Regions from separate parts of the Homo sapiens genome. Here regions 1 and 3 are each linked to region 2. The links come from fine-mapping of genetic effects on gene expression. A gene starts in region 2. Each other region holds a variant in brackets. All regions are shown on one strand. Distances are between the middles of the regions.

The links.
Region 1: its variant is fine-mapped to the expression of BZW2 in whole blood (INTERVAL, PIP above 0.99).
Region 3: its variant is fine-mapped to the expression of BZW2 in whole blood (TOPMed, PIP above 0.99). The same link has a PIP of 0.9 or more in nasal epithelium.

Annotation. Positions count from the first base shown.
Region 1 is chr7:16,669,520-16,680,185 of GRCh38, reverse strand. It overlaps BZW2 (basic leucine zipper and W2 domains 2), which reads right to left. Exons shown (of 12, transcript NM_014038.3): 3 at 5,598-5,774. Among named protein-coding and RNA genes, the nearest start is that of BZW2, 29 kb to the right of the region's middle. The variant C/T (reference allele first, on the strand shown) is at 5,334.
Region 2 is chr7:16,640,461-16,651,126 of GRCh38, reverse strand. BZW2 (basic leucine zipper and W2 domains 2) reads right to left here and starts at 4,946. Exons shown (of 12, transcript NM_014038.3): 1 at 4,839-4,946. It overlaps ANKMY2 (ankyrin repeat and MYND domain containing 2), which reads left to right and starts at 5,373. Exons shown (of 10, transcript NM_020319.3): 1 at 5,373-5,620. The coding sequence starts at 5,554. RefSeq lists enhancers at 2,261-2,772, 4,967-5,246.
Region 3 is chr7:16,681,579-16,692,244 of GRCh38, reverse strand. BZW2 (basic leucine zipper and W2 domains 2) reads right to left here. Exons shown (of 12, transcript NM_014038.3): 5 at 9,400-9,465; 6 at 6,205-6,340; 7 at 2,339-2,448. Among named protein-coding and RNA genes, the nearest start is that of BZW2, 41 kb to the right of the region's middle. The variant T/G (reference allele first, on the strand shown) is at 5,966.

The DNA.
Region 1 (10,666 bases), 29 kb before region 2:
GACTCATAGAATCTTTTTGCCTTCTACTTGGGTAGCTATTACAATTGCTCCCTCCTTTGCTAACCCAGTTACCCATGACTGGTTGAATAGCATGGACTCCGATGCTTGCTATTTGAATTTGATCGCCCAGCTGCTATGTTGGCTAGAAGAAATTATTTTATTCTCTCTCATCTTTTTTTCCCCATGGACTCAATAGATTAGATGCCTTTTTCTTCAATAACTTTCCATATTCAAAGGGTCCTCCTGTAAGTTTCAATGGTAGCCATTAGAAGCATTAGTTGATTAGAAGAGCAGAATGAGAACATTAGGAATTTTTATTTTCTAATTTTACTTCGTTGTAATTAAGGTAGAAGGTTTGGGTAGTTAGATTAATATCTTTCATATACACAACAAATGTTTCTAGTGTATATACTTATACCAGCTACTGTGCTAGGCACCAAGGATACAATAATAGTCAAAGCTGAAAAGACAAACACTCTCTACTCATTAGCCACTCCCTTTATTTGTTTGAGTATTAGTGTATAATCACCTTGATTTAACTTGTGATTTCAGATCTCTGGATTAAAAGGGCCACCCATAGCCACCTTTCTTAGCAGGCATAGGCAAATGAGAATTCAATCAAGTTATACTTTCCTTAGCTTATCATCCCCTCTATGGGCTTCAGACTTCAGCATACAGTTTAGTAAGTAAATTAGTTTTTGGAGAAGTCAGCCCCTTCAAGAGTCTATTTTCACTCAATTAATTTATGCATGAGATTTAATTAGCCCTTTTAAATGAATATAACCACCTGGAACTGTTGCGGGAAGTCAGGGAACCTGAACGGAGGGACCGGCTGAAGCCACGGCAGAAGAACATAAATTGTGAAGATTTCATGGACATTTGTTAGTTCCCCAAATTAATACTTTTATAATTTCTTAAGCCTGTCTTTACTGCAATCTCTGAACATAAATTGTGAAGATTTCATGGACATTTATCACTTCCCCAATCAATACTTACGCAGTTGAAGATAAGGGATGAAATACACCCTGGTCTCCTGCAGCACCCCCAGGCTTGTTAGGATTGGGAAATTCCAGCCTGGCAAAATTCTAGTCAGACCAGTTGTGTCTGCTCTCAAACCCTGTTTCCTGTTAAGATATTTATCAATGACAGTGTGTGCCCAGCGGGACATGGACCTTCATCAGTAATTCTAATTTCGCCCTGGCCTTGTGATCTTGCTCTGCCCCCATCTGCCTTGTGATATTTTATTGCCTTTGAAGCATGTGATCTCTGTGACCCACACTCTATTCGTACACTGTCTCCCCTTTGGAAATCGCTAATAAAAACTTGCTGGTTTTGCAGCTCAGGCCGACACGTGATGTCACCCCCCGAGACCCAGCTGTAAAATTTCTTACTTTTGTACTCTTTCTCTATTTCTCACACCGGCCAACACTTAGGGAAAACAGAAAAGAACCCACGTTGAAATATTGGGGGCTGGTTCCCCTGATATGGAACAAACTTAGATAATGATCTTCTAAAAACTCTGGGCTAATTATTGCTATTGCTTTTGATAGAAATTATAAAACTGAAAAGTTTGATATTGAAACTACAGACTTTTGAGAGGTATGTTTTTTAAAGTTACATTGTTTAATGAAAGAAAACACTTATTACATATTAATAATATTGCTACATCTTGCATTAAAATTTTTGCTGATATTAGGACAAAGTATTGTTTGCCATTTCTAACGTTTTTGGAGTGACTGCTGTTTTTCTCAAGGTAGAAGTGAACTTAATACATTTATTGTATTTACTATACGAAGGGTAATATTGAAAGACCAAGATAGCTGCTATTTTAAGAACAATGGGGCCGGGCGTGGTGGCCCATGCTTGTAATCCCAGCACTTTGGGACAGATCACCTGAGGTCAGGAGTTCGAGACCAGCCTAGCCAACATGGTGGAAACCCCATCCCTACTAAAATTACAAAATTAGCTGGGTGTGCCGGCACACGCCTGTAATCCCGGCTACTCGAGATAATTGCCTGATTCCAGGAGGCGGAAGTTGCAGTGAGCCAACACTCCAGCCTGGGCGACAGCATTAAAAAAAAAAAAAAAAAAAAAAAAAGAACAATGGAAGAAGGTAAATTGTGAGTGTCAGGAAAATTTCTACATAATAATTAAACAAAGCATTTATGTAAGAAGAATGCACCTAGCTGGCTTCAGTCCTTACGTCACATGTCCGGACTCAGTAGACATCTGGTGTTGCATAGCTTATACCAAAACGTTTGGCCCTATGTTCTTCTTGAATGTATAGACATGCAGTGAAGAAGTGAAATCTGGGCTGCACTAACCAATGGAAATTACTTAAAACCCTTCACCAAACCTTTCACTTAGGCATTGATAGCACCCAGACGCCCAAATTATTATTTACTGGACCAGGCCTTTTCAAAACTATCAAGCAGATAGTCAGGGCCTGTGAAGTGTGCCAAAGAAATAATCCCCTGCACTGCAGGCCATACATTTCAATCCCTGTATCTTTAACCTCCTTGTTAAGTTTGTCTCTTCCAGAATCGAAGCTGTAAAACTAAAAATGTTCTTCAAATGGAGCCCCAGATGCAGTCCATGAATAAGATCTACCGTGGACCCCTGGACCGGCCTGCTAGCCCATGCTCCAATGTTAATGACATTGAAGGCACCCCTCCCGAGGAAATCTCAACTACACAACCCCTACTACACCTCAATTCAGCAGGAAGAAGTTAGAGCGGTCGTTGGCCAACCTCGCCAACAGCACTTAGGTTTTCCTGTTGAGAGGGGGTACTAAGAGACAGGACTAGCTGGATTTCCTAGGGTGACTAAGAATCCCTAAGCCTAGCTGGGAAGGTGACCACATCCACCTTTAAACATGGGGTTTGCAACTTAGCTCACACCCGACCAATCAGGTAGTAAAGAGAGCTCACTAAAATGCTAATTAGGCAAAAACAGGAGGCAAAGAAATAGCCAATCATCTATTGCCTGAGAGCACAGTGGGAAGGATAATGACTGGGATATAAACCCAGGCATTCAAGCCAGCAATGGCTACCCTCTTTGGGTCCCCTCCCTTTGTATGGGAGCTCTGTTTTCACTCCATTAAATCTTGCAACTGCCAAAAAAAAAAAAAAAAAGAAATCTGGGCTACAGAGATAAATCTGCTGATCATGGTAAAGGAAACTTTAAGAAACTCAACACAAATTATACAGATAATTTTATATGGGGAGGTGGTTAACGATGGAAGCCAGGAGTAATGTAAGAAGTGGCATGCAGAGAGGTAGAAGGAGGTCTAAGTGGTCTCGTGTAAGGGAAGAAAATAAAAGAGTTCAAGAATGACAAAAGGGCCAACAGTGCTGCCTAGAGGTCACTCAGTCTGAAAAGGGTCCATATAAGTGACTACTACAGTCATGTGACTTTGGCAAGAACCAAAACTCGCTGAAGATCACTCTGATAAAAATATATCATAATTAACGAAATACTAGAAGTCAATAATATATTAGGAAATATTCAACTCCACTATTAAAGTTTTAAAATGAAAATACTCATCCCTTACCTAATTGACAGAGATCTAGAGAACTGATGAAATTAGGTAGCTAACATTGTTAAAGGTGTATGTAAATAGGAACTCATAATTTTTGATAAAATATTAAATATAATGTTCCTTTTGAAGATCGCAATGGTGTGATCTCGGCTCACTGCAACCTCCACTTCCTGGATTCAAGAGATTCTCCTGCCTCAGCCCCCTGAGTAGCTGGGATTACAGGCACCCACCACTATGCCCAGCTAATTTGGTATTTTTAGTAGAGACAGGGTTTCTCCACGTTGGTCAGGCTGGTCTCGAACTCCCGATCTCAGGTGATCTGCCTGCCTTGGCTTCCCAAAGTGCTGGGATTACAGGTGTGAGCCACCGTGCCCAGCCCCTAAATATTCTTTAACATCCGTTTGGCTTTAATTCTTTTTAGAATCATCCAGTATAACACTGATGGGTGTGCAAGGCAGCAACATATTGCTGAATAAATACAAATCAGCATGCAGAATATCGTATTTGCATAATGTCACCCAGTCTCAAAATTTTATGAGGTAAAGAGATTTCTTTTTTCTTTTCGAGAGAGAATCTCGCTCTGTCACCCAGGTTGGGGTGCAGAGGCTCGATCTCAGCTCACTGTAACCTCTGCCTTCTAGGTTCAAGTGATTCTCCTGCCTCAGCATCTCTAGTAGCTGGGATTACAGGCAGCCGCCACCACATCCTGTTAAATTTTGTATTTTTTTATAGACACGGGGTTTCACCATGTTGGCCAAGCTGGTCTCGAACTCCTGACCTCAGGTGATCCGCCCGCCTCAGCCTCCCAAAGTGTTGGGATTACAGGCGTGAGCCACCACGCCCGGCTGCTAAAGAGATTTCCAGAAGGGAAGTAACCAAAATGTTAACAATGATTTTTCCCGGGTAATGGGATTTGAGCTCAATATAGATAGCTGTTATACTTAGACTTGAATTATTTACAGTCATAATGTAAGCTCTTCATAAACAATAAGAACAACAAAACTAATTCAGTATGTGGTGAAAACTAGCAAGGCAGAATGACAGAAGGCCTAGTAGTCAATGGGGCCATGTACCAAACAGATTGCTTGAAATAAGAGCTCAGAGAAAAAGGAATTTACGGGCAGTTCCACCTCAAGATGGAGGAATGTATGCACATTCTTTTTCAAAGCCAAGGTAGGCTGGCTTAAGCAGTGTTTTCTCAAGGAAAGGCAATGATGGCACTTTGGGCAAGGCAATCTTTCATTATGTTGCATGTTCTTTGCATAGCAGGTAGACAAATACCTGCCCTCCCCGCTTAAGTCTTTTTAACAACTAAAACACTTGCACACATTTGCAAACTGAAAATTCCTGGCCTAGGAAATTTGACCGTTTCTAGTGATTTACAGCTACGACAGGAACTAACGATAAGAACTCAGATCTAAGAATGACTATGAGAGGAAAAATGGGTGGCTATTATACTTAATAAATATTAGAATCATCTACTTAATAAACTTAAATAGCATTTGAAGCCTACTTTCCTGATGCCTCTGTTCTATAAGGTATAGCTTTTATTTTGTTTTCACCTATCTTTAACAATTTCTAATCTTCTATCTTTAATTTTTCTACTTACTTAAAATTTAAATGATTTTTCAAAAACCAGGTTTAAACTATATTTCTTATATGCTTTATTTATGGATGAAATGGCATTAATTAAACCTTGGAAATTTATACACTAAGTTATAGTATTTTGCAGAAATTACCCCTTTTATGGCCCCACCAAAAACACTGAAAGATTAGGGACATATGAGAAAGG[C/T]GGCTTTTAGGAGAAGCAAAGTGGCCAACTTTGTTGTAACGTCAACCAAAGTCCTCCATTCTATGCTTCTATTAACCAATAATCATTTCACATCTGCATTAATACCATTCCAAATCCTAAACCAGGTAAAATTATAGGCTTCCATTTGTATTTTTATTAACTCTAATAAACATAAACTTATAAAGACTCTATCTTATAAGGAAATACTTCAACAGAATTAAAAATATATAAATATACTACAAGAAGCGATAATGCATGGTTTACCAAGCATACTGCCAGCCACCAGGATATCGAAGAGTGTGTCTGCATAGCGACGATAATCTAATCTTGAGCCTGTAGAGTCCAGAAATTTGGCTACAGCTTCAAGGTCATCACCAGCCTCATTAAGCCCCTGGACAAGTGTATCCCTGAAGACTGTGGGTTCGAATTTCTCTTTTTCATCTAAAATAAAACAATTCAAAATAACAGTCAAATAAATAAATAAATACTGAGAGTATAACAATCAAAACTTTAATTCTATTTTATCTAAGATAGGAAAAAAAAATCCACAGAGCATCGCCAAAGAATGTACGAGAATATACAAATATAAACAAACAAATAAAGATGGCATAGGGGAATAAGAAGGGATGTCTCTTTTAAAATAAGTTACTGTAGGCCGGGCGCGGTGGCTCACGCCTGTAATCCCAGCACTTTGGGAGGCCAAGGCAGGTGGATCACCAGAGGTCAGGAATTCGAGACCAGCCTCGCCAAAACAATGAAACTCCGTCTCTATTAAAAATATAAAAAATTAGCTGGGCATGGTGGTGGGTGCCTGTAATCCCAGCTACTGGGAGGCTGAGGCAGGAGAATCACTTGAACCCAGGAGGTGGAGGTTGCGGTGAGCAGAGACAGTGCCATTGCACCCCAGCCTGGGAGACAAGAGTGAAACGCTGTCTCAAAAAAATTAAAAATAATAATAATAACTTATTGCAGAGTACTTAAATATTTAATAGATGTAATGAGCCATATATGTATATCTACAGCTTCAGGACAGATGTGCTAAACTTTTTGGTCTCATGACCTCTTGACACTTAAAATGTACATTTGGAATTAGGATTCCAAAGTATCCTTTGGAAAAAGACTCTGGAATCCTAATTACAAAGGATTAGGATTCTAAACTTTGGAACCCTAATTCCAAAGTTTTGGATCCTAACCCAAAAACTCTTTGGAATCCTAACTCCAAAGCATTCCAAAGGGAGTTTTTGTTTATGGAGGTTCAATCTATGGATATTTATTTTAAGAAATTAAAACAAAACATTTTATAGTATTTATTTAACAAAAAAAAATTAGTGAGAAGGATAGTACTGTTTTATACTCTTGCAAATTCTCTTTAATGCCTGGCTTAATGGCAGACAGATCAATTTTCATATCCACTGCATTCAATTTACTGCAATATCACACATCTTTAAACTCTAGAAAACTCCACTGTAAAAGTATGAGAGAATGTGTGAAAGACGTGAATATCTTGGTATCATTATAAAAATGGTTTTGATTTTGTGGGGCTTCAGAGGACTGACAGGGATATAGATATTATGTAGCTTTTTTTCCTTAGAAAGTGGATAAGACAAGGCCGGGCGTGGTGGCTCACGCCTGTAATCCCAGCACTTTGGGAGGCCGAGGCGGGCGGATCACGAGGTCAGAAGATTGAGACCATCCTGGCTAACGTGGTGAAACCCCGTCTCTACTAAAAATACAAAAAATTAGCCAGGGGTGGTGGCGGGCCCCTGTTAGTCCCAGCTACTCGGGAGGCTGAAGCAGGAGAATCACTTGAACCCGGGAGGCGGAGCTTGCAGTGAGCCAAGATCGCGCCATTGCACTCCAGCCTGGGTGACAGAGCGAGACTCCGTTTCAAAAAAAAAAAGAAAGTGGATAAGACAAACACAGAGCAATCACAAAGGCACACATGAAAAGCATAAATGAGCTGTCACAGTGAAATGGACACATGAGTCTGCAGAAGTAGTTTGGTGTGGTGACTGGAAGTTTGGGTTTGGAAAGAGTTTTGGTTTAGACTCTAGCAAAACCTTGTGGAAGGTCGACTTGGAGCCAGGTCTTGAACAAAGCAGGGATCATATACTGTTGATAAGAAGTGAAGATGACAAACCACATGTCAGATTTGGTGGAAAAGAATGAGTGGATTAAAGGTAAAGGGTCTGTAGTTCAACTCAAAGGACATCACCCTTTTTTTCCAAACCCATGGAGAATAAGTCTGGATGTGAGGAGAGAGGAGCAAAGGATGAACCCAAAACTTCAAAAGAAAAAATTGTATCACAGATCTCTCTAGAGAGAAAGGTGAAAGATACTGCAACAGAAGTGGGAGGGATGGAGGGAAGAGAATACTATAAAAATATTTCATAAATAAAGAGTTCTTGGAAATAAAAAATATGATAGGAAAAGTAAAAAACTCAATGGAAGCATTAAGAGAAACCTAAGATTATCTTTCAGAAAATAGAAAAAAGGTCAAAGACCTAGAAAATAGTAGCAAAAAGAAGAGAAAAAGGGCAGACCTGTCAAATATCCAAAAAAATACATCGAATAGACAGAATGAGAAAACAAAGGAAAGGAAATTTTTTGAAAAATCTCAATAAATCTCCCAGAAATGAAAGATTGTTTCCAAGTACATGGCTGTCTGGGAACCCAGCACAAAGACTGAAAGTGGATTCACACAAAGTACATTGATTACTGTGAGATTTCAGAATACTGGGAACAAAGCAATTATCTGAAGTTTCCGGGGTGATAAAAAAACAAGTGGTATGTAAAACTTATCAAGCAACTAAATTGCTCAACAGAAATACCAGACACAGAAGACATTTCTTCAAAATTCTTATGGAAAAGTATTTCCAGCCTAGAATTCTTGTTAGTGTTCCGATTTTTTTTTTTTTTTTTGAAACAGGGTCTCACTCTGTCACCCAGGCTGGAGGGCAGTGGCGCAATCTTGGCTCACCATAACCTCTGCCTCCTGGGTTCATGTGATTTTCCTGCTTCAGCTTCCCAAGTAGCTGGGACTACAGGTACATGCCACCACACCCAGCTAGCTTTTGTATTTTCAGTACAGACAGGATCTTGCCATGTTGCATAGGCTGGTCTCAAACTCTTGGCCTCAAAAGATCCACCTGCCTTGGCCTCCCAAAGTACTCGGATTACAGGCATGAGCCACTGTGCCTGGCCCAGCCAAACTACTAATCAAGGGTAAGAGCAATACGAACATACATATACTGAAACACCCAAGGCCTCAAAAATGGATAATAACTGAAGAGTAAGTCATGAGATCCCAGGCAAGAGGGAAAAAACAAGACAGGCAATAGTACTCTTGTGGATAATGGTGAAAGGACATTTCAAGCTTTTCCTTAAGTGTTTTGTATTAAGAGATTCGTACAACAAAGGGAAAGGTTAGGGTGGGCTAGTTTTAAGGCACAGAAAACTAAGGCCCCCCAACTCAAGAGATAATTACATTTATTAAATCAAGAGATAACAAAATAACGTTATTTTTTAAAAATGCAGTCATATCATAGTTCAGCTGTGAATAGCATGTACAATGTCACAAAAATATAAACCCTAAACATTGGTGTAGCTGAAACTATATGATACAATGAAAGAATAGAGAAGGACAGGAAGTATGGGGATGGGGGGAAGCAAGCAATGAAAGAGAGCTGAATCATCATTTTCCATAGTAGAAAAGGCATATCTACTATCTCCAACAGAAAAAATCAAGAACTAGCCATACTATGTGCATGCATAACTTTGATAAAATTAAAAACTACATTTTAAAACCATATAGCAACTGCCTAGTTTGTACTGCTTGTAAGTGGTCTAACAGAAGGGCTGGGTTGTAAGTGGTTAACACTAGTCACATAAGCATGAGAACCAGAGAAGAATGGCATTCCCAGTACCAGTCAGAGTCACGCAGCGTGAGATACCATAAAGACACACATAAATTAACTGGGACAATATTCATCATGAACAAGAGATAAAAAGTCCTTTTGATGCTGTAAGCAAAACATTATGCAGTCAAGAACATGCAAATGGTGACTGCAGAAAAAATATAATTAGGGTCTTGTTGTGTAGAGGGGGAGGAAAACGCATAGGAATTCTAGAGGAATACATTAGGTGGAGTGGGAGGAGGGGATAACTGGGTTTCTACACAAAAGGAACCCACTGAAAAGCACAGAAAACTTCACCTCCCACTCAGGGTCTAGCCAACAGGCAATTCTCCTTCCTTGTTGAAAAAAGATATTTTCTTTCCTATAATATGAGAAAGGTGGAAATAAAACAACTACATGCTGTTATATTAAGTCTTGTGACCAGTTTCCAAAATCAAATAAAGTCATTCCCACAAAGGCCCTACCACATGGTTGGATGTTGATTCAGGTGGTAGAACAGATTTTGATGATTTGAAAATTACAAATGGAGGCATTGGGAAATGTAAATGGATAAATGAGGAAAAACCCAGATTATGCCAAGAATCAATGCAGAGGACTTTGTTTTCAATGTAAGACACAACTTAAAAACTTGTTTGTAAAAAGATCTTCATCCTCCCATTCCAAAAGAATTACCAGCAAACAGAAAAAGGAAGATAGCATACTACAGCCAAGGATATTTCAACAGTGAGCAATAAGGGTGGTAGGTCAAAATGATTACTTACAGCTTGGAAATCTTAAAAACTTATGATGGACCGAAAGGACTAATAATTGTTTTGCAGGCTGAAAAAAGCTCCCAGCTGCTAAAACAAAGTGACCATCAAAAGGACTAGAAAATTCCCATATAAGAAAATGGCAAGAACACTAATGAAAACTTGAGAAACAAGACAACTTTGGAACTAAAGAGTCTTTTTCATCTGAAAGTACAGTAAATGTAGTTTGCATTTTATTAGAGGACAGTCTAGCAGAAATACTAACAAAATTCGAATGAAAATATGCCATTGCCTCCTTGGATTTCCATTTGGCAGTTCAAGTCTGCCTTGAAGTGAGAAGGATATAATTAGGGTCTCCAATTTAAACTGTGCTGGTGAATCATAATTGTGATACTCAAGAGTTAGTCATCATAGCCCTTGTACTGACATAGAGAAGAAATGGGCCTAATTCTGACACTCAAATATGCGTATACATTACCTAACTTGCTTACTGTGGGAACTACAGTAACTGGTTAAAAACACATTAGTGAAGTGATATAATAGCAGAACCTACATCCCTTTCTGGATGTCACTGAGATGTAGCAATGAATTTTAAAAATCACATATTTTCTTTTTTCCTGTAAAATCAAATGTATTTTCTAATTATATATATACACATACTCATATT
Region 2 (10,666 bases):
AATGGAATTAAAGATAGCCAAAGGATTATACTATCTTAAATATTAATACAGGGCATTATTCTTTCTTTTTGTCATTATACTTTTTTCCTTTAATTTTTGAATAAACTTAAAAAACATCAATGGAAACACCTATTGCTAAAAATCAAGAAAGAATAATGAGAACATTATCTTTTTGGCATTTAACCTTAAAGAATGGTTCATTCAATGAGTTATTCAAATCTTTATTTTCAAAATAGATAGTTTACAAATATGACTACCTGAACAATTTTGGCACTCTTCACTTAATACACGCCAAATTTAGAACGGGGCAAATCATTCCACTCGGCACCTAACTGCCCAAAAGATACTTGCTAAAGAGCGCCATGGCCTCAATACACAGAAATGAGTGAGTTAAGAATGAAAAGTATTCTTGTTTATGACCTGCTAAGATTGGTGGATTTCATATTAATTAAATATTCTTGTAAAATCCCAAAGTCTAGGATGACATGTTATAAAGGACATTTAATATATCTAAAACACAATAAAAAATTGTAAAGATCAAAAAATCAGTTTAAAAAATTGCACAAATTAGAAAGTAGGTGTCAGATTAAGTATTCAGCTAAGCAAACACTGAGTAAGAACCTACCAGTCACACCCTGTCCTGGGCCTGCTCCTGATTTTCCTAGACTAATACTTATCCTATCAGTGCTGACATTGCTCGAAACAGTTTTGGTACTCTTTTTTTTTGGAATGCCTTCTGAGTTGGATTATGACGCACAGAAGAACATCAGTATCTCCACTTCATTCACCTCTTGATTTTCTCAGTTAAACTAAATGTATCTGTACCCCTTCTTCAGAATTTTCTTTTCAAAAAAGATGAAGATTAACTACCAGTAAGATATTCATCAATTTGTTCTACAAGCACTGAGTAATGCCACCAACCTTTTACTTTTTGGAGAAGTTAAAATGTGATGTCAAATGTTTATGGAAACGCATTGTTCACAAGACAGTTCTTTGCAGATTTAGGTGTAACTGTTTTAACACTTAAATGAATAATCACATAAGCGAAACTCCAAGTATAGAAAAAAGAACATTTGTATTTATATTACTTTCTTATGTTGTGTTTAAAAAAAAAAGATTTCTTAGAGGCTGTAATACTTCCAAATTTTCTTTTTAAAAACTTCATTATGGAAAATCTCAAATATATCCAAAAGTAGAGAGAACAGTATAATCAAGTGAATATACTCATCACCCATCTTCAACTGTTAACATAGTCAATTTTATCTCATTTATATTCTCATTCAGTCTCTCTTCCTTTCTGTCACAGAATTATATTAAAGCAAATCTCAGCTGTCTTCTCATCCAGTTCTGAAATAATTCTGTTCCTATCTCTAAAAGATAAGTAATCTTTTAAAAATATAACCGTAATCTACTTCCAACTTAAAAAAATCAAAATTTCTTATTATCAAATATCCAGTCAATAAAGATACCTAAGTCTAAGGAAAAAAAGTCAAATGTCAAGACAAACAGTACCCTGAAAGATGTAATACTCAAAAATGCAACAAAAAGGCAGCATTCTCCTAATGTAGAGAGCTGGAAATCAGGGTCTTTAATGGGGAAATCTAAGAATGGCATGCCAAATTTGTAACATGTGCACAAGAACAATTTTTCTTGGTTGATAGCATTCATCAGAATGTCAAGAAGCTTGAGATCCAAAACATTTAAAGACTTTCTGCCTCTGGTTATGATTGTGCGTGCTTAGTGCCACCTCACCTCACATTGCCAGGAAGGATTAGTCAAGTAGGAAAACAAATCCACCTAAAATAACTTAGAAATCAAACTGAATTCAACTCAGCTTGTACTGAGCATACACTAGGTGCAAGACACTGGGTTAAACCTGAGAAACAAAGATAAATTTGACCTAGTTAATGTATACTGTAGAATGAGAAGGGACCAAACAGATTAATAATAACTATAATAGAATGCGATGAGAAAGTGCTTGTTTTAGGTATTTTCATGGAGATTCAGATGAAGAAGCAATGATGTCAATTTAGGGGGGCGGTAAAAGAGGGGTCGCTAGAATCCATAAGAAGAGAGAATTAAAGGCTGCCAGCAATGATACCAGTAGCCATGTTGCATATCAATATCCTCCATGTACAAAGATTTTACTTATAACCCTTGCCAAGAGACATGAATAAATGTATTTACTAGCATGTATATTTCCCTTACTGGATAGAGAGGGAGAGATGAACACAAAAGCTGAAGAAAAGAGGTTTTGTTTAAATTGTGTCTGGAAAGTTGAATAGTTCATCAGATCTGGAGAGGAGATTCAGTGAAAAGGGAAGGGAAATCATTCAGAGGAGGAGAAAAGCAGGAACAAAGGGGTGGAAATTACCGGCAGGTTGGGGAACAAGCAGAGTGGTGACCTTAGAGCCCAGTGTGTGGGAGGGCCCAGATGACTGGAAATGCCTGCTGAGACCATGGATGGATTGGAACCTTCCAGGCCAGACCCAGCCCTCTATTCTGTGGCCAGCAGAGAGCCATTCAAAGAATGATGGGTGCTCAATGTTTATTGAACTGGTAGTTCCCTGAATTAGCTAGATGGAGACAGGTGAGAGAGAAGCAGGCTACTTAAGATGCATTGCAATAGCTCTAGAGTGGTAGATATGAGAGGACACATACAACATTTCAAACATTTCAGAAATCATTATTCCAATTCTGACTTGACACTTCCTAATATGGGATTGTGGGCAAATTATTTCCCTTACTTTCTGTCCTCTTATTTGCAAAGTGGGTATAATATTGGCTCATTCCTGGGTTGTCATAACACTAGAATAATTCTATGCAAAGCATCTGGTAGAATATCTAGCACAGACTAAATACTCAATATGAAGTAGCTATCTTATTATCAATAAAACTTCTTTGATGTGAATCTGTTTTAATATGCTCATTATCTAATCTTATCCCTACATTAAATATTTACACCATACAAAACTACTAATGTAATCAATCCATCTAATGAACAGTACCCATTATGAATCTGTTTCTAGAAATGTAAACTGAACATGATTTATTTGCATTTCTAGGTAGATGTTAGATTCTCTTTCAACGTTATTGTCTCTAAATTCACTGGTCATGTATTCAGAGAGCACTAAATACCAACCAAGTGTCATAAGGCATCAAGAAAATAGATAGTAAGCTGCTATCCTCGAGGAACTGACAACCCCAGTGAGACAAACAGGTGTGACCTTCAAGTAACCATGGCCCAGATTTGGCACAAGAGATGGAAATACTAGCAATGAAGTACCCAATTATGTGTATGCATCTGCTGGTAAGATGCTAAATCACATGTTCCAGGAGGTTACCACTCAACTGTTTTTTTAGGTTTGTGGGTTTCTTCCGCATGATACTATGTTATAAATCAATTGTAACTCTGAACTAACAGCATTACAAAAGATTGGTCACTCTCAGGAGCCTTACTACTTGCTTGAACAGCCACATCATTATTAAAGCATCATCCAACAAAAGTATCTTTGTTATACACTGAGATGAATAATTTCAAACCATTTTCATGTAAGATGTTCTGGCTCAGATCTGTCCCAGTCTTTAATGCTGAAGCTTTAGGGGGGAAAAACAGCTGGAGTTTAGGAAAGATTTTTGCTAAAGGCAGGAAATAATGATAAACATATTCCAGGAGATTTCAGATGTTAGTGAAAGCTTCACGCAAAATAAATGCCTAAGGCCAGAGGAAAATGCATTTCGCTTTTCGTATGGCGCTATGAGAAGAAACAGTGGTCCTGGGGATGCTTAACAAAAACCACCTACATAATTACTCAAATATTTCTCTTTGACACATACACGTCTCTTTGACACACATATTGAGAGAAACATCAATACTACTCTGTAGGGAAACAACAGTAAAACATAAACACTAATTTCCAAAGAAACTTTCATTGATGATGTAAATATAAATCTGCACCCTGGAGAAATGACTGATTCCCGCATTTTAGCAAGCAAATCTTATTCTGAAATACACACTTGTATTTACCCCCATCTACCTATGGTCGAAGCTCCAGGCTACATATTACAGTTGAATGAAGGTTGGATTAAGAGGCTAATCTAAGGCTATATATAGGCAGCAACACCAATTTAATCTCCGCCCTCTCCAACCTCCCCACCCTCCACTCCCTATTTCCATAAATCTCAAGATCTGAGTTACAAAGAGAACCGAGAACTCTAGCAGAGCAAAGAAGCCCTTCCTTCCCCCTCCCACAGGCTGTCTCTCATAAACGAAGTATTAGTGCAAGTGTAAATTGTTTCCAAACATCTTTAACAAGCAACATTGGGCGATCAGGTTTTCTTCTACAGCTTCCACAGAGGCCAAAGAGATGACAAGTAGTGGGGAGGGCGAGGATCACCAGCGTAAAAACTACCTTCTCCCGAGTCTGTTCTCACTGACTCGCTAGTAATGGGGCGCTGTCCTTGCGACCCCTACCTAGCCCAGAGCCCCGGCCCCAGCCTCCCCGGGAGCCGCATCTGGCGGTGCCACGCACGAGACCATGTGCACCCGCCACTTCCCACCGCGTGGCTGGCCCCCGCCCGCCCGCCCGCGGTCCCAGGGTCTCCCGAGGCGGCCAAACGTTGCGAGTCGGAGGTCTTCATCCCAGGGCACTGATACCCCGTACGCGCCGTGATGATGAGGTGGAGCGGGGGCTTCTCCACCGCGAGGCAGGAAGCCGCCCCAGGAGGCACATGCTTCCTCCCCGCCAGCTCCTGCCCGATGGAAACCCCGGCGGGGCGGCAGTCGCTACTCTCGCAACCCTCACGGCGCCCCTTGCCTCACCTGGGCTGCTTCTCACCTGTCCGAGGAGGTAGCGACGACGCGCAAGGCTGGGGGCTGCGGCGATTCGTGCAGCAGCAGCGGCAGCAGCAGCAGCAGCAGCAGTGGCGGCAGACAATGGAGGAGTGAAGGACAGACACATTGACATAGACACACGGAACCCGGCGCAGCCCCGCCTCCCGTACCGCCCCCGTCTCCTAGACCGCCCCCGCCCAGACTGCGCCACTCCCGGGGGAATGGTGGGGGTACGGCGACAACCTGGGGCCTCTGCATGCCCCAGAAAGCCGTCGCTGAGCACATAACTGCCAGCTGTAGAATTTTCAATATTACATGTGGCGAAATATTTGAACCGGACAGGATAGGGGAGCGGAACGTGTAGGAGGAATTTAATTCCCCCCTCCAGCTTTCTGCATTTGGTTTTGTCCTCCCAGGTTGCTCCAATGGCGATCTCTCGCTACCGCCTCCTGCGGCTCCTCCTCCTCGGCAGGGCCAATGACAGGCGGCAGGCGGTGACCGCCGCAGGGCCTGCGGAGACCGTCCGCCTGGCTCGCCCGAGCTCGCCCGCTGTCCGCCAGCCCGCGGGAGGGAGGAGAGAAGCGAAGCGTTTCCGCGGTTGGCTACTCAGTGTCTTGGTCTCAAGTTGCCTCATTGCGGCTGGCGTTCCCAATACAGACGCATCGTTTCTTTTTTAATACTCCCTAAGAAAGGGAATAACCTTCAAGCTGGCGGGAGCAATGGTTCACATAAAGAAAGGCGAGCTGACCCAGGAGGAGAAGGAGCTACTGGAAGTCATCGGGAAAGGTACGGGTGCTGGGCTGCGACGCGGCCGCGGCCAGCCTGGCCGGGGGGCGTGGCGGAGCCCGGGGGGCGCTCCTGGCCTGGGTGACCTTTGGCTGCGGTTCTGCAAGGTTTGCAGCCTGGAACCGGGAAAGAGCGTTTCTCCCTTTGGTCTGGGAAAGGTTGCAGGGGCGGAGAGGTGGGGAGGCAGAAGCAGTGCTGGGACAAGAGGGGTAGTTACAGAGGCTCGGCCTCTAAATCCGCTTTTGGAAACGTACGGATTTCCACGCCCCGCCTTAGGTTAATGCGAGCTTCCCGGGGTGTGGACCCCAGTGTGTGAATTCTTCACTGCTCCCGAGGGATTTTGACCGCGGTCAGTCCTGGTAGTTTCAGGTTCTTAGGCGGGTGTCTAAATGACCCTTTAGACTTCCGCAGGCCGAATGATCTGGATCCTTTGCCGATCCCCGCCCCCGCTTGGGAGTGGAGGGCGCCCTTAGGGAGAGGGGTTCTTCATAAGGGTACAGAACTAGGTCTGTAATTTGCTGCATTGAGACTTCCGTATCCAGGGCCTCCCTGGCTTCCAGAAGCCCCGACAGCCTCAGGAACCCTAGAGAGACAAGGAAATTGGCGAGGCCTCCACACCCACCCCTCGGCCCACGTTGCACAGATGAGACCTTCTAATCGCGCTCCTTCGCGCTTTCTTGTCCACTCCCCCAAGGCGTGCCCCACTTCCGCAGTGCTGAGTCCCAGCGGGGAGCCCCGAGGACGAGCCAGAAGCCATATTTCCCCGGAGTCCCCGAGTGGACGTCCCAGAGGAGTTCCCTGCCGAGTCCCGTTACCTGGCAGGTGACATCAGCGTGACTGCATGCTTCTTCTGCACCCTCACGGTGCAGGGATGGTGATGCGTGCGACTCCGGGCAATTAATGTGGTGATTTTAAACTCAATAATAATATAGCCATGTTTGTCCTCGAATGGCAGAGATGCCAGTCATTGCAGCATAAGGCTTCCCAGTTTCCAGTTTTATTTACTTAGTAGCCAGGCTGAAATGTGGAATCCTAGAGAATAAGGCAGATTTATTCTTCATAGCGACAAGGAAACTCCACATGCGAAGGAGAAAAAATTCCGGTTTGAACTCAACAGGTGCTGATGAGCTGAGCCCACCCGATCTGATCTCAACTATTCTAAGTCAGTCACAGCTATATCTATCAATGATGTGTTCTTTGCCTGGAATTTGGGGATTTGGGTTAGAGTTTAGATTGTTGTACTGCATGGTTCTTGCTGACCTATTTGGCATTTCAGTCTTTCAGTTCTTCCTGTCTCTAGGTAATTTCTCCCTGCCTTTGATGGCTCTGGGATTCAATTAAGCAAACATGCAAGTTCTAGCTGTGTGCCAGGTACTGTGCTGGGCAAAAAGGAGACAAAGGATCAATTCACAATCCACCAGGGACAAAAATTCTTTTAGGCAGGACAGAGCTAGTACATGTCCTCTCTCTCTCTCGCTCTCGCTGTCTCTTTCTCTCTCTCTCTCGTTTGTTTGAGACAGGATCTCACTCTTCACCCAGGCTGGAGTTGCAGCTCTCTGCAGCCTCCACCTCCCTAGTGGCTGGGACTACAGGTGCGAGCCACCATGCCCGGCTACTTTAGAAAGATTTTTTTTTTTTTTTTGTAGAGATGGGGTGGTGGGGGTCTCCCTATGTTGCCCAGGCTGCTCTCGAACTCCTGGGCTCAAGTGATCCTCCTGCCTCGGCCTCCCTAAGTGCTGGGATTACAGGCATGAGCCACTGGGCCTGGCCCATCATGTGATCTCTTAAAAGTGAAAAATAGTGAGCAGTTTTATAAATTGAGTCTTTGAGAGGGGAGAAGGGATTCCTTGGATACATTCTCAGGTGTCCATCAGTATTTATTTTGAAGATTATATAAACCTGAATTAATGTGCATTTATTCTGGTTAGTGCTGTGATATTTCTGGGCTCACACGGTGCATCAAGTTGCATGAGTGCACTGATGCTTTCATCGCTTTCATTGGACCATGCCAATGAGAAAAGAACTGATGTGGACCTAGTATGTGATGCATTCTTGTCAAATGAAGGTCTGTGGGACATCACTTGCACTCATAAAGAAAAGTAATGGGAGATATGAGAAAAACAACCATAGCCAACGTTTATTGACTGTTATTGCAAGCCACACATAATTTTAAGTACTTTACATATATTAATGCATTTAATTTGGATGAGCTAGGAATTAATTTTAAGCTATGACAGTATGAGAGACAGCATGGGATAGTGGTTAACCATGCAGGTCTGGTTTGAAATTCTAACTCATTTACTGGTGATGTGGCCTTTGGGCAAGTGACTTTTCCTGAGCCTCAAGTCCTCTGTGTGAAAAATAGGAATAATAATAATACCCACCTCACAACGTTGTTATGGGGATGAAAGTAGTTAGTATAGTTAAAGCATTCGAAATACTGCTTGTGTTTGTGATAAATATAGTAATCTTCACTTTATAGGCAAGGCAACTGAGGAACTGGGAAGTTAGGAAACTTAGTGTCAAACAGGTAAGTGGCAGAAAGTGGCAGAGCAGAGGTATCACAGGGCCCATAGGTAATAAACAGGCTGTACCTAAAAACAAACTAAACAAAACATGAAACAGTACCATAGCAGTCCATACAATATTCACTTTGAGAGGTCATTTAGTTCTAGCAAAACAACATCTGTCAAGTTAACTCAGTTTTAAATGTTACTGATTTTGTAGTTCTGTGTGCATTAAATTTAAAGTAAATTTTTATTTTATAGTTGAAGAAAGGCCATAAGCAAAGTTTATATTTGTGCCAAAAAGAGGCATTTTTTTTAAAGTGGGTGAAGTGAGTTTTTTTTTTTTTCTTTCATACGTTTTTCAACTTTGAAAAACTCTAGATGAGACAATAAGTTCTAGTACTTTGAACTAACAACTTTTCAGCAAAGTCTAGCCTGGCATCTTGGTCAATCTGAAATAAACTCGGCAAATATTTAAGTGATTCCCATCTGCCAGCCACTGCTCTCCAGAAAGACAGACTCTAAGTGGGGCTTTTTATTTATTAGAATGCCAAGAAGTTCCAGATGAAAATGAAAATCTGTTTCCAACATACCCATTTAAATCATAGTTAATGACAGCATTCATTTAACAGTATGTAAGAGGAAATTGAAATCACTGAACTGTGTTTAACTGGCTTATATGACTTGTAGAGTTACCCATTCTTCTAAGCTTTGATACCTTTTTCATTAATCTCAGAGCAAGCACTATTATGAAATAAATTAAACCTTTTTTAAGGCTATGAGCTAGATAATTTTCACATTACTTCTCTTATTTAGTACCTGAAATTCCTGGGCTTACTGTTGCTAACAAGAAAGTATTATACTTCCTTTTTTTTTTTCATATCTGTGTAAAGGAGCTATGAAACAAGTTTGGATAATAAGGCTTTTTCTTACCAACTATTGAGATACAATAAATTGCACATATTACAGGTAGTACACACTTTTTAATCAGTTTTGATTTAAACATACATCTGTGAAACCATCAGTAAGATCAACATAATGAACATCTTCATCACCCCCTAAAAAGTCCTTATGCCTCTTTGTGATCTGTCACTAACTTCACCCCCATCTGCAGGCAACCACTAACAGATCTCTGCCTCTGTTGATTAGATTTCTCTATTCTAGAATTTTATATTAGTAGAATCATACAATAAGTATCCTTTTTTTGAGGGGGGGCTGGCTTCTTTCATTCAACATTATGATTTTGGGGTTCATATTTATTATGTGTACCAATAGTATGTAGCTTATTTTCTTCTTTTATTTCCAGTGGAAGGATATACTACTATTTGTGCATCCATTCCCATTGATGCCCAATTGTTGTTTCCAATTTGGGACTATTGAAATAAGATCCTGTTCTAAGGTCCTGTGTCGTTAATAATACTTCTGGTGTCTTTATGGTTGAGAAACATTCAAGTCTGCTTATAACCAATTATAGTACAGAGTTCAAAGAAAAAATTAAAATATATGGTTACCATTAGTTGGATGGCTGGACAGGTTATGCAACCTATATGGGCTTCATTGTCTTCATTTTCACAGCAACAGCTCTTTTAGATACTCCCAATTTTATACAGTGCTCTGTAATACTAATTTAAGATCATTTTTTTACAAAGTCTAAAAATAGATATGAGTAGGAGACCTTTTAGAAACATCGCACAAATTCACGATTTCAAAATGCATGTTATAATTAGAAGTCTCCACTATGTGTGTGTGTGTGTGTGTCTGTGTGTGAGACAGGGTCTCACCCTGTCACCCAGGCTGGAATGCAATGGTGCGCTCTCGGCTCACTGCAACCTCTGCCTCCCAAGTTCAAGCAATTCTCCTGCCTCAGCCTACTGAGTAGCTGGGATTACAGGCGTGCACCACCGCGCCCGGCTAATTTTTGTCTTTTTAGTAGAGATGGGGTTTCACTTTTAAAATATATTTATAGCTTTATATCTATGATTATATCAAAATCTATATCCATATGTTCTTGTTTTAAAATTAAGGCACTTTAAACATTTTTACATGATTTTACTTATACGTAAACACTATAACAACTAACAAAGCCAAATAGATTTCTAAATCCTTAACTTGATTATATATTCCTTAAAATATCCGTTTTCGTGGCTTCCAATAAATAATGATTGCAATCCAGCTGGACATAGTGGCTCATGCCTGTAGAGTGACCCCTCTGCACTTTGGGAGGATCCAAGAGGATCACTTGGACCCAGGAGTTTGCCACCAGCCTGGGTCTCAATATAGTGAGACCCCGTTGTTACAAAAAATGTAAAAATTAGCTGGGTGCGGTGGCGTGCACCTGTAGTCCTAGCACCTCAAGAGTCTGAGGCAGGAGGATTGCTTGAACCCAGGAATTCAAGGCTGCAGTGAGCCATGATCATGCCACTGCACTCCAGCTTGGGCGATGGAGGAAGGCCCTGTATCTATAAAAAATTAAAACAATAATAATGAATAACGATTGAAATCTATACGTGTTTGAATCTCATGGTTGTGTGATGAATTG
Region 3 (10,666 bases), 41 kb before region 2:
ATAAGGGTTGGCTTCTCCCATCCCCTCACCTCTCTGAGTTGCTATAAATTGCTCTTTCTTCTGTATTGTAATAGTGGGTGATAGCTAAAGTCTAGTAATACACAACTTTTCCTAAAATGTAGTAGTTCACAGTTAAAGAGAATTTTGTTGTATATGTTCATAAAACAAAATTTCCTCCTAAAGAGTGGAACTGACTCACTAGTTCCTCATTCTTTTGTTGATTCAACAAATATCAGGCAGGCATAGTGCATAGGCAACTACGCTGTTCTCACCCAGTTTATATGTTTCTCGCAGAAACCACCACCTATGTTCCATATATATACACAAACACACACATATGTACACACACACACACACACACACACAGAACCTAGTAAAAACAGCTAAATGACATGTGTTTCCAAAAAGAAAATGAATTTTATAAATGAAGCCATCTAATTAAGCTAACCAGGCTATAGTTGTGAATATCTTTAAGAAAATTACTGCTTTAAGAAATAACCGGATAGATTGTATCTTTGTTCCCAATCATACACCTTCTCTTCTTCAAAAGAGTATTAAGAGAACCCCCTCCTTGCTATGTCTATCTGCAGAGGTGGAGAAGCAGCCTATTAGTGGATTGGATTTTCCCAATCTATTGCCAGGCATGGCAGCGTCCATAGGTGAGTTTTTAAGGTACTTGAGACGTTCAGTTCAGTCTCTGTGTTCTGGTACTTTGCCATGAAGACAGAATGGCCCAGATGGGAGCTGCTCCCTCAGCCTGTGCCCGAATGAAAAGGCATGTGGAACTAAGCCAGGCTTAGCCAAGATAGAGCTAATCTATAGACAACCCACAGCCTCATGGACAAGAAATATGTTCCCTTCATATGAACCTCCACCTTCCTCAGCAACCTATTCACTTATCTTCTGTGACTTTTGCTTCTGTTTACAGGGATTTGCCCTAAGTCCACTAGAAAGTAGGTTTCACGAGGGCAGGCAACTTTTCTATCCTGTTCTCTACTGGCTCTGCAGCTTGTGGTACCATGCCCAGCACAGGGTAGACATTCAGGAAACATGAGGAATGAAAATTATTATGAACTAGAATCTAGACTTCTGTACCTTTTTTACCATAATCTAAAAACTTTAAACACACAAATCTATTTAAGGTAAACTTCAAGAAACAAAGTATTCTTAAGTGATTTAAATTGCAAGTATTTACATTTAAAATTACTTTCATGTGTTCTTGAGGAAAAGAGATAGTCTTAGAATTATCTCATGGGACTGGACCCTTGCACACTGAAACACATTGGAAGAGAACAACAGAGAACAGGCCAGGTGAAGAGATGGCAGCGCTGTGTCTTATTTTTACACTTCATCCTAGAACTGTAAAAGCAATTCCACCTGGAGAAATCTTGGCATTTCACAGCTGCTGCATCAAGAAGAAAGAAATTGTAGGGAGCAGATAGAAATTACAAGAACAAAATATTTTTCTGGATTTTCTTAGAAAAACACAAAGATGGAGAAATAAAAATATAATCAAGCAATTGTGACACAATTAACTTGTTTAATTTCTGCAACAGCTTAAGTATTTCCAGGGAAATCTTGTTTAAACTTTTATTTTGTTAGCAAACTATTTAACACACATTTGAGATTAGCACAGTCTGACTGCTACTCAAGACAGACATCACAAGTATTTGATTAAGTGAGATTGATGAAATTTTTATCATATTAAAACCTTAAAATGTCTAGAAAGTTATGATTATAGGCTGAGTGTGGTGGCTCACGCCTATAATCCCAGCACTTTGGGAGGCTGAGGTGGGCGGATTACTTGAGGTCAGGAGTTCAAGACTAACCTGGCCAACATGGTGAAACCCCGTCTCTATTAAAAAAAATCCAAAAATTAGCTGGGTGTGGTGGAGAGCACCTGTAATCCCACCTACTCGGGAGGCTGAGGCAGGAGAATTGTTTGAACTCCGGAGGCAGAGGTTGCAGTGAGCGAGATTGTGCCATTGCACTCCAGCCTGGGTGACAGAGCCAGACTCTGTCTCAAAAAAAAAAAAAGTAAAAAAGTTATGGCTATAAAACAAAGTCTTAATTCTGATGAAATGTTAATACTATGTCAACAAACTTACAAATTTGGAAGTCTATATTCTTCACAATTCTTTAATTTTATTGTGCCATTTGTTCACAAAATAAAGATTAAAATGAAATTAGCTTCTACTACCAATTACACAGAAATAAAAGGAACAGTGCTCCAAGTCAACACAGATCCAGGGATCTTACTCATATACTACATTGCAGGCATTGCTTAAGCTCCAAGAAAGGCATCATACATACAACTCTTTAACCAGAAAACACTTACAAGCAGCCTCTTGTCTAAGTTGGCTTTTCTCAAAGACGAGGTAACAGAGTTGGCATCTTTTTCTGCCATCCATGCTTTGAAAAGCTTGACAGCAAATGAGGCCGCAATGCCTGTTGAAAAACAAAAGAGAATTTCATTCCTTTTACGAGCAAAACCAATTGTGATGGTGTGCAAAGCAACCAGGTTTCCTGAAATGTGTAAATAACTAAAAGACTAATTTTGGTACAAATGAAAAGTCAATAGACCTCTAGGCAAATTCTCCTCTTCTCATTACTCAAACTAGAACATTTTCAGGAAAAGGAAAATAAATTAAAATATTTTTCAAATTTGGACTCCTTGAATCCAACCTGGTCTAACTGCAAGTTTATTTTATTTTACCTTGGTCAAAAACATATTTCACACCCAGTATCTTTGGTGTTATTGCCTTTATTTCACCCTCTGGTTCATATGTATTTCATCTTTATAACAGTGATCTTGAGGCACAAGAAAGTAAATTAGGAGACACAAAACTGTAATGTCACCTTTATCAAGTAATTTGCTAATAAAGGATGCCAGTACAAGAACACTGATAGTGATAGATACAATAAGTATTGCTACGAATAGATGAACACATATCATTTACCTTAGTTTTGCTTTTTATAAAAAGCATTTTATTTATTTATTTTTATTTTTATTTTTGGGGGGATGGAGTCTCACTCTGTCGCCCAGGCTGGAGTGAAGTAGCACGATCTCGGCTCACTGCAATCTTCACCTCCTGGGTTCAAGTGATTCTCCTGCCTCAGCCTCCCAAGTAGCTGGGATTACAGGCATGCACCACCACACCCAGCTAATTTTTGTATTTTTAGTAGAGACAGGGTTTCGCCATGTTGGGCAGGCTAGTCCTGAACGCTTGACCTCAGGTGATCCACCTGCCTTGGCCTCCCAAATTGCTGGGATTGCAGGCATGAGCCATTGCACGCAGCCATAAAAAGCATTTTAAAATATTCTTGAGTTAAGCTATAAAAATACCAAGGCTGTTTCAAGTTAAACTCTTCTGGATTTAAAAAAAAATCATTATTAAGCTAGTTATGTTAAATCAGGAAACCATTTAATCACATGTCCACATTTACATTACCACTTATTTCCAAATAGAAATAATCAGATAACAAGAAGACAGTTCTATGAACACTTCAAATTTCTAAATTTATGTTGCGGTTATTTAATGAAGAGTTAAGATGTAACTGAAACATTTAACTGATTTTTCTAAACTGAAGGTTCTACTATTGTTATGAGCTAATGATAATGTGGCCTAAGCAGCCTCTATTCTCTTTACCTCCTTCCTAAAAGAGGTCCCCTTTTATCCAGTCCAGGTGACTACTGATTAGTCTAAGTCCTGGTACCACCCCTTTCTGATGATTAATTTAGTGACCTCGCTTAAGCTCATCTGCCCAAGGCACGCCCCTGGCAATTGCTACTGGACCTGCACTAGTCATGCAGCCTGTGTCAGCCAATCAGCTGAAGGAAAGATAAATTATCCTCTGTTCAGGAGAAGTGTTCTTCCACTGAACCTGAACCAGGAAGAATATGCCATAACTGTGTCAGCAGGCATCTTATAACAACTAGAGGGGGCACCATCCTTGGGATGAAGTTAATGCTATGAATGATAACAGGAGAAAAATACTTAAGTCCTGAATGATACTGCTGTTCAGCCTGAGGTCTGTCCTAATTTTCTATTTATTGTTACATAAGAAATCCATGTCCTTATATACCAATTTGACCCAGGTCTTCCAGCAACTGGAAAGTAAAAGCATTTAATTGGTCTATCATTCATATAGACACCAACTAAACCTGATTTTCTTCCCTTGAATAAGCAAAGAAACTAAGTTAAAAAAAAAACAAAAACGGCTATAACAACAAAACATGCATTACACCTTAACTGAAAGTTCATGTTAAACAACTTAAGATGAATTTTTAGCATTATCATTAGCTCATAAAACCAATATAAAATTTAATATAAATTAACACTAGGCTGTAATCTGTATCGTAAAGAAAAACTACGCTTGAAACTAGGAGCCTAAAACTGAGATTTAACTTTCTTTATAGTTACTCCTCTGAGTAGGATAATCCCATCTCCCTTGGTCATTTATTGGATGAGCTGGGGAAAATGATTAATTTCTTAACCATTTTCTTTATTTCTTTTTTTTTATTTTAGATAGTCTTTCTCTGTTGCCCAGGCTGTAGTAAGATGATGTGATTATAGCTCACTGTAGCCCCAAACTCCTGGGCTCAAGCAATCCTCTTGCCTTAGTCTCCTGAGCAGCTGGGATTGTACAGGTGTGCCAACACACCTGGCTAGTTTTTAAATTTTTTTTTGTAGAGAAGAGAGTCTTGCTTTGTTTCCCAGACTGGTCTCAAACTCCTGGCCTCAAGCAATTTTTTTACCTCAGCTTCCCAAAGTGTTAGGATTACAGGCATGAGTTACCATACCCAGCATTTTCTTAATCCTTTTCCAATTAGGAAGCAAGGGTTTAAACCTCTAGTTTGTAAAAGATGGCAGAGTTTAAGGAAAAGCCATATAACAGAGGTACTATGTTACTTCCATAGCAAAGTTATTTTTCTCCTCACCACCCCCCAAACATTTTACTACAATAATTTCCAGACATACAGAAAAGTTGAACAAATTGAACAATGAACATTCACATGCCCACCATCTAGTTTCTATAACTAATATTTTGCCGTATTTGCTTTATCAGATATCTATCCACCTAATAACGTAATTTTTGGATATATTACAAAGGAAGTTACAGACATCACTTAGGTTTTTAAAAAAACTAGAAAGGCAATTATTTTCTGTTATGTTGGCTAGGATAATTTAAAATAATTAATGATTAACATTTATATTCTATGTTGACTTTCTGTGTGCAAAATGGCTAATAGCAAAAATAAGATGTGTGTTGTATTGTGAATTTTCTTCAGGGAAATACTTTAAAATGTCATAATACTAATAACATCTAACAATTACAGAGTCTGAATTGTCATAAATCTGAGTGATTTTAAGCTAAAAACTAGGAAGAGTCTCTGAATAAGACCAATTGACTCTCAATTTACTATTCTTTCCTTAGCTACAAGAAAACTATGACTCCTTTCTTTCACTATAGGCATGAATGAAGCTAGGACTTCATATATGTAGGAGGAAAACTTTAAGTTCTCAGAAGAAACAGATGTTCTCACAAAAGCTCTTTTAATTTATTTTTAAGGAAAAATAACTGTTTTGTGTTGCATTGTAATTTGACTATCATTATCCTCCTACAAGTAAACAGCCGACTTTTATTTTATTCTATAACCAAACCATGGTATGCATGCCTATCCAACCCTTAATGCCTTAAAATTAAAACAAGACTCCTTCTAATGCAGCAGACTTAAAATTGTTTTCTAAAACTGAGACAATGAGTATCTTAAAAAGTGCAATCAAAATGAATATCTGAGCATCAGTTTCTCTAGACCTTGAGAGGGGAACAGTTTTTGTTCTTATAATAGGGGTGAAAGTTAAAGGCTGCCATTTTGTGTCGAAGGGCAAAAAGATTACCAGATCGATTTCGGGGTATTTGACCTAGGCATCAAGTCTTCCATGAGATTTTAATTTGCTAT[T/G]AGTCTTTCTTAATATGTCTTTGTACAGGTGTGCATATTTTTTCCTTCAAACTTCCTACAATTAACAAGTCCACTCCTTTTATTATTTGAAAGGCAATATACACCCATACAAAGATATTCTCTTAAATGAAGAATGAGTAATAGAGGACACCAAAAAGAGCCACTGGCATTTTTCTAACTATCTGTGACTTTATTTTTCTTTTGTTGTCTGACAGGCGAGAAAACAGGAGCCTCGTTACCTTCTTTGACTAAGCTGTCGGTGAAGAGACTGGTGAGGATGGTGGCGGGCAGGGTGCCATTGCCCAGCAGAATCCCCGACAGCATCGCCAACTTTGTCTGCTCTGTTTCGGAAAAGGCTTTAAGGAAGAGGAGAAGCTGTGGGTCAAAAAAAAAAAAAAAAAAAGAAAAAGAAAAAGAAAAAAAAAGGAACCATGTCTATGAAGCAAAGGACTGAAGTGGGAAGATAAACTGTGAACATCCATGGCTACGTGGCACACAAACAGAAGGTCATATGCAAAGCATAGTAATTCATTTCATGATAAACTGGATGCTGTGGAAAGTGACTTGAGCAGGCAGAGTTCCTTTCTTCTCAGTTAATTTACTCACAGCTGTAGATAACATTCATGGAAAGGAAAAGAGATATTTGGATGATATGTAAACAGATGGATTTATGTTTGACTATGTGCATGCAAGAGAGTTAAGTATACATGATGGACATGTTTTCTGAAATGTATTGTTTTTCAAGTTTTTCCACTTCCTTGGGCGACTACCTCTTCCCCTGCTACATGTACCCATTTTCTCTGAATAGAATTTGTACGGCAAAAACATAGAAACAAAAAAAAGCCCCACACAAACAAAAAAAAAAAACAGGAAAGAGTCGAAGTTAAGCTTTTGACATTTAATATATACTTTTCTGAGCTCACGGAATACAACAGTCTTCAAAACAAGACTGTTGAGGGAGAAAGGGGTTTTCTAGGTTCTTGATGTTTTTTTGGTAAACTTTTAGATTCTCTTGCCCCAGAGGCAGGGAACTAAAAAAGTAGCAACCCTAGAAAATTTGAATGTAAGCTCAAAGCAAATAAAACGAAAAACCCACTTCCTGTATTAAATTCTAAGAGTAGTCAGCCCTGTGGGATGCCCTTCTCTCTCCTGACTCTCCTCTGCTTTGTGCTTTGACTACATTCTACTGTTACTTTCTCCATTTCAGCAGTTATTAGGCTTGCCATGGAAATTCCTCAGGGGCCACTATCACCACAGGGGCCTTGCTGATTTTCCATTATTTTGCGCCAATGCAAAATTCACTGGCATTGATAGAGACTTAAGTGTCTCCACCCTGATGACATGATTATTCCACTAACTGTGTAGGGGATAAGAAAATATTAACTTACTATTCCCCAAGAATTGAAGGATTATTATATTATAGACTATTTACATTATGTGAAAGTGGCAGAACTGGAAACAAACCAGTCCATTTGCCTCTCAATTTATACCTATTAAATTCTCAACAAATTAAAAAGAAGTTAACATCTAAGTAAGTGCCAGGGAGTGAGGGAATGAGGGATTGAAAGGCTTAAGTTCCAAGGAGCATCAGAAATGGGGAAGAATGAAAGAACTAACATAAATATAGACAGTTCATGTCAATTTGTCCTTTTCCTCCATTATAAAAATAAATAACATTTAAACGAGAATAATAAAAATTAGCCTCTAAAATAAAATTTTAACACCACTTCTTTAAGCTCACACATATAACCATATTCATTTAAAATATACTTAATCACATAGAAATGGTACAAAAATTAGATCATCATAAAAATAATAACCACATTGCTCAATTATATTAATCAACATTAAAACATAATTACATGTATACACACATATTGTTTTTTACTGCATTATATGCTAATGATAGCTAAAACTTGTTGAGTGGACCAGACACTCTTCTGATCCCTTTATGTGTATTAATACCTACAACAGTCTCCATCTCCAATTACAGAAAAGAACACTAAGGTACAAAGATATTAAGTAATTTGCCCCAGGTCAAACTACTACCAAATGGTTGCTTTGCACCTCGCATTTCCACTTAATTTGTCATGGGCATTTTCCCTTATTAATACATGTAGTTATGCCTACAAGTATAAAAGACTGCATAGTATTCCACTGTATAGATAGATTGTAATTTAATTAAACAGTCTTCATCTCCCACCAATGAACATTTAGGCTATTTTTCAATACTGTGGTGACATCTTCATACATATAGCTTTATATATCCATGCTAATGGATTCTTATAAATTCATGACGGCTGGGTCATGGGTCATGTAAGAAACATTTCTTTTAATGACTATTGCCAAATTGCTCTTCAATATTATACACAGAACCACTTTGAACTGGGTGGGGTGGGGTGCAGTTAGGTGGGGAGGAGCGGGGAGAGTAAGTAAGTAGGGAAGAAGTAAGTATATGTTATGGTTACTTTTTTCACTTGGTTTTTTACTTTAGATAGTTATCTAAAATTGGAAGCAATGACAAAGTAACAAACAAATCTGAAACAAGTAAAGGTAGTGGGTGCCATATATAAATACAGGAGTTACAAATTGGAAGAGGGAACATGCAATTACTCAAAAGAGGACATCTTTAAGGAGATGCTACTGTGGATTTCACTGATGAGAAAGAGTATTGAGAATTACACCTATATACTCTATCTCCAAAGAGGTGCTTTTATTCCCTTTGCTAAACTGCATACAATTAAAGAATTTTGCTGAACATTAGCTGCTGTGCTACATTCTTCCATAGGCTTTAACTACTTAAATCACTTTATCTAGTTTTCATTTTAATCTCTGCAAGGTCAGAGGTTATAGCCCGTAAAACTATTCTTACTGAACAAAGCACACTGTCTTACATTAAATATTAATGGAAAAAGTCCAGAATAATCACATATTTCTTCCTATAGCTATTAGCTAATGATCTTTCATACTTATTTACCAAACATGTATTAAAAACTCACTATGTGTTTCACATACATGTTATTACATATATGGCACTTCTGCAATATCATTGTACATGTAAAATTTTATTTTATTTTATTTTTTGAGATGGAGTCTTGCTCTGTTGCCCAGGCTGGAGTGCAGTGGAGTGATCTCGGCTTACTGAAGCCTCTGCTGCCCAGGTTCAAGCAATTCTCCTGCCTCAGCCTCCCAGTTAGCTGGGATTACAGGTGCATGCCACCATGCCCGGGTAATTTTTGTGTTTTTAGTAGAGACAGGGTTTCAGCATCTTGGCCAGGCTGGTCTTAAACTCCTGACCTTGTGACCCACCCGTCTCGGCCTCCCAAAGTGCTGGGATTACAGGCGTGAGCCACCGTGTCCGGCCACTTATAAAATTTTTATCCACCCCCATGTCATTACTATAAAACAGATAGGCATTATATTTGAATTTTTACCTTTTTCATTTCATCTTCAAATGCCTTCTCCAAATACTTATATCTCCTGATGAGTTTATTGAAGACCTAAAAAAAAAACAACCATTAAATATTAGGTCAACCAAAAAGACACAGAAGTAGGTAATAGAAACTCACTATAATGACACCATAGATCTATAATAATAAAAGTGTATAGTTAAACAGGCTCACACTGTAATATAAGAACTATAAGCATTTCAAAGATGCTATCATGACCTAGGGGAACAAATATGATCAAAATGTACACGTAAGATAAAACAAATTCATTCAAGAATATAGCAGGTAGAAAAAAAAATTCGACGAAAATAAAATAAATGTGATTTTTAAACTGTGAGATGCAGAGACTAAAAATCACGGAAATGAAGGTGTTAAAGATATAACCACTTAGACAACGATGTGATGGGGAGGAGAGCAAAGTGCAGGACAGATTCTACTCTAGGTGGACAACAAACATGTTTCTAGCAGATGAGCAAAACGTGTTATAATTTACTGGCAATAAAGGATGACTGGCCCCTACAGTCCTGTTAGAACTCTGAAGCAAAGTTTGCAACTGTATTAGTAAGATTCTAGACAGTTTTCTAAGTGGAATGATGTTTTTATGTAAATGAGGATTTTGTAAATATTGGTTATTTTAATAACTGTGGAAATGATTTCTTAATCTAGTTCCTTTTTCTCCTACACACAGGCTATATTCCTACTTACAACTCTTGGTGTATTCGTTTCCTAATGTAATCAAGATGGAGTCCAAGAGTAAAAAATATGGTTGCCCTTTATGGAGAAAGAATGACTCAGGCAGGGAATTAACACACAATAAGAAAAAGAAATAAATTGCATTAAAATCCCATAAATTTTATTTCCAACTTACACTAATACTTACATATTCCTTAACATGTATACAAGAAAAACGAATTCTCCTGATCCAAGAATAAATATTTAAATTCCCACAAGAGAGGTTAAAAAAAAAGCATTATATTCTTGTAGTTCTTTTTGTTTTGTTTTGAGATGGAATCTCACTCTGTCACCAAGGTTGAGCAGTGGCACGATCTCAGCTCACTGCAACCTCCGCCTTCTGGGTTCAAGTGATCCTCCTGCCTCAGCCTCCCAAGTAGCTGGGATTACAGGCACCCACCACCACACCCAGCTAATTTTTGTATTTTTTAGTAGAGATGGGGTTTCACCATGTTGGCCAGGCTGGTCACAAACTCCTGACCTCAAGTGATCCGCCTGCCATGGCCTCCCAAAGCGCTGG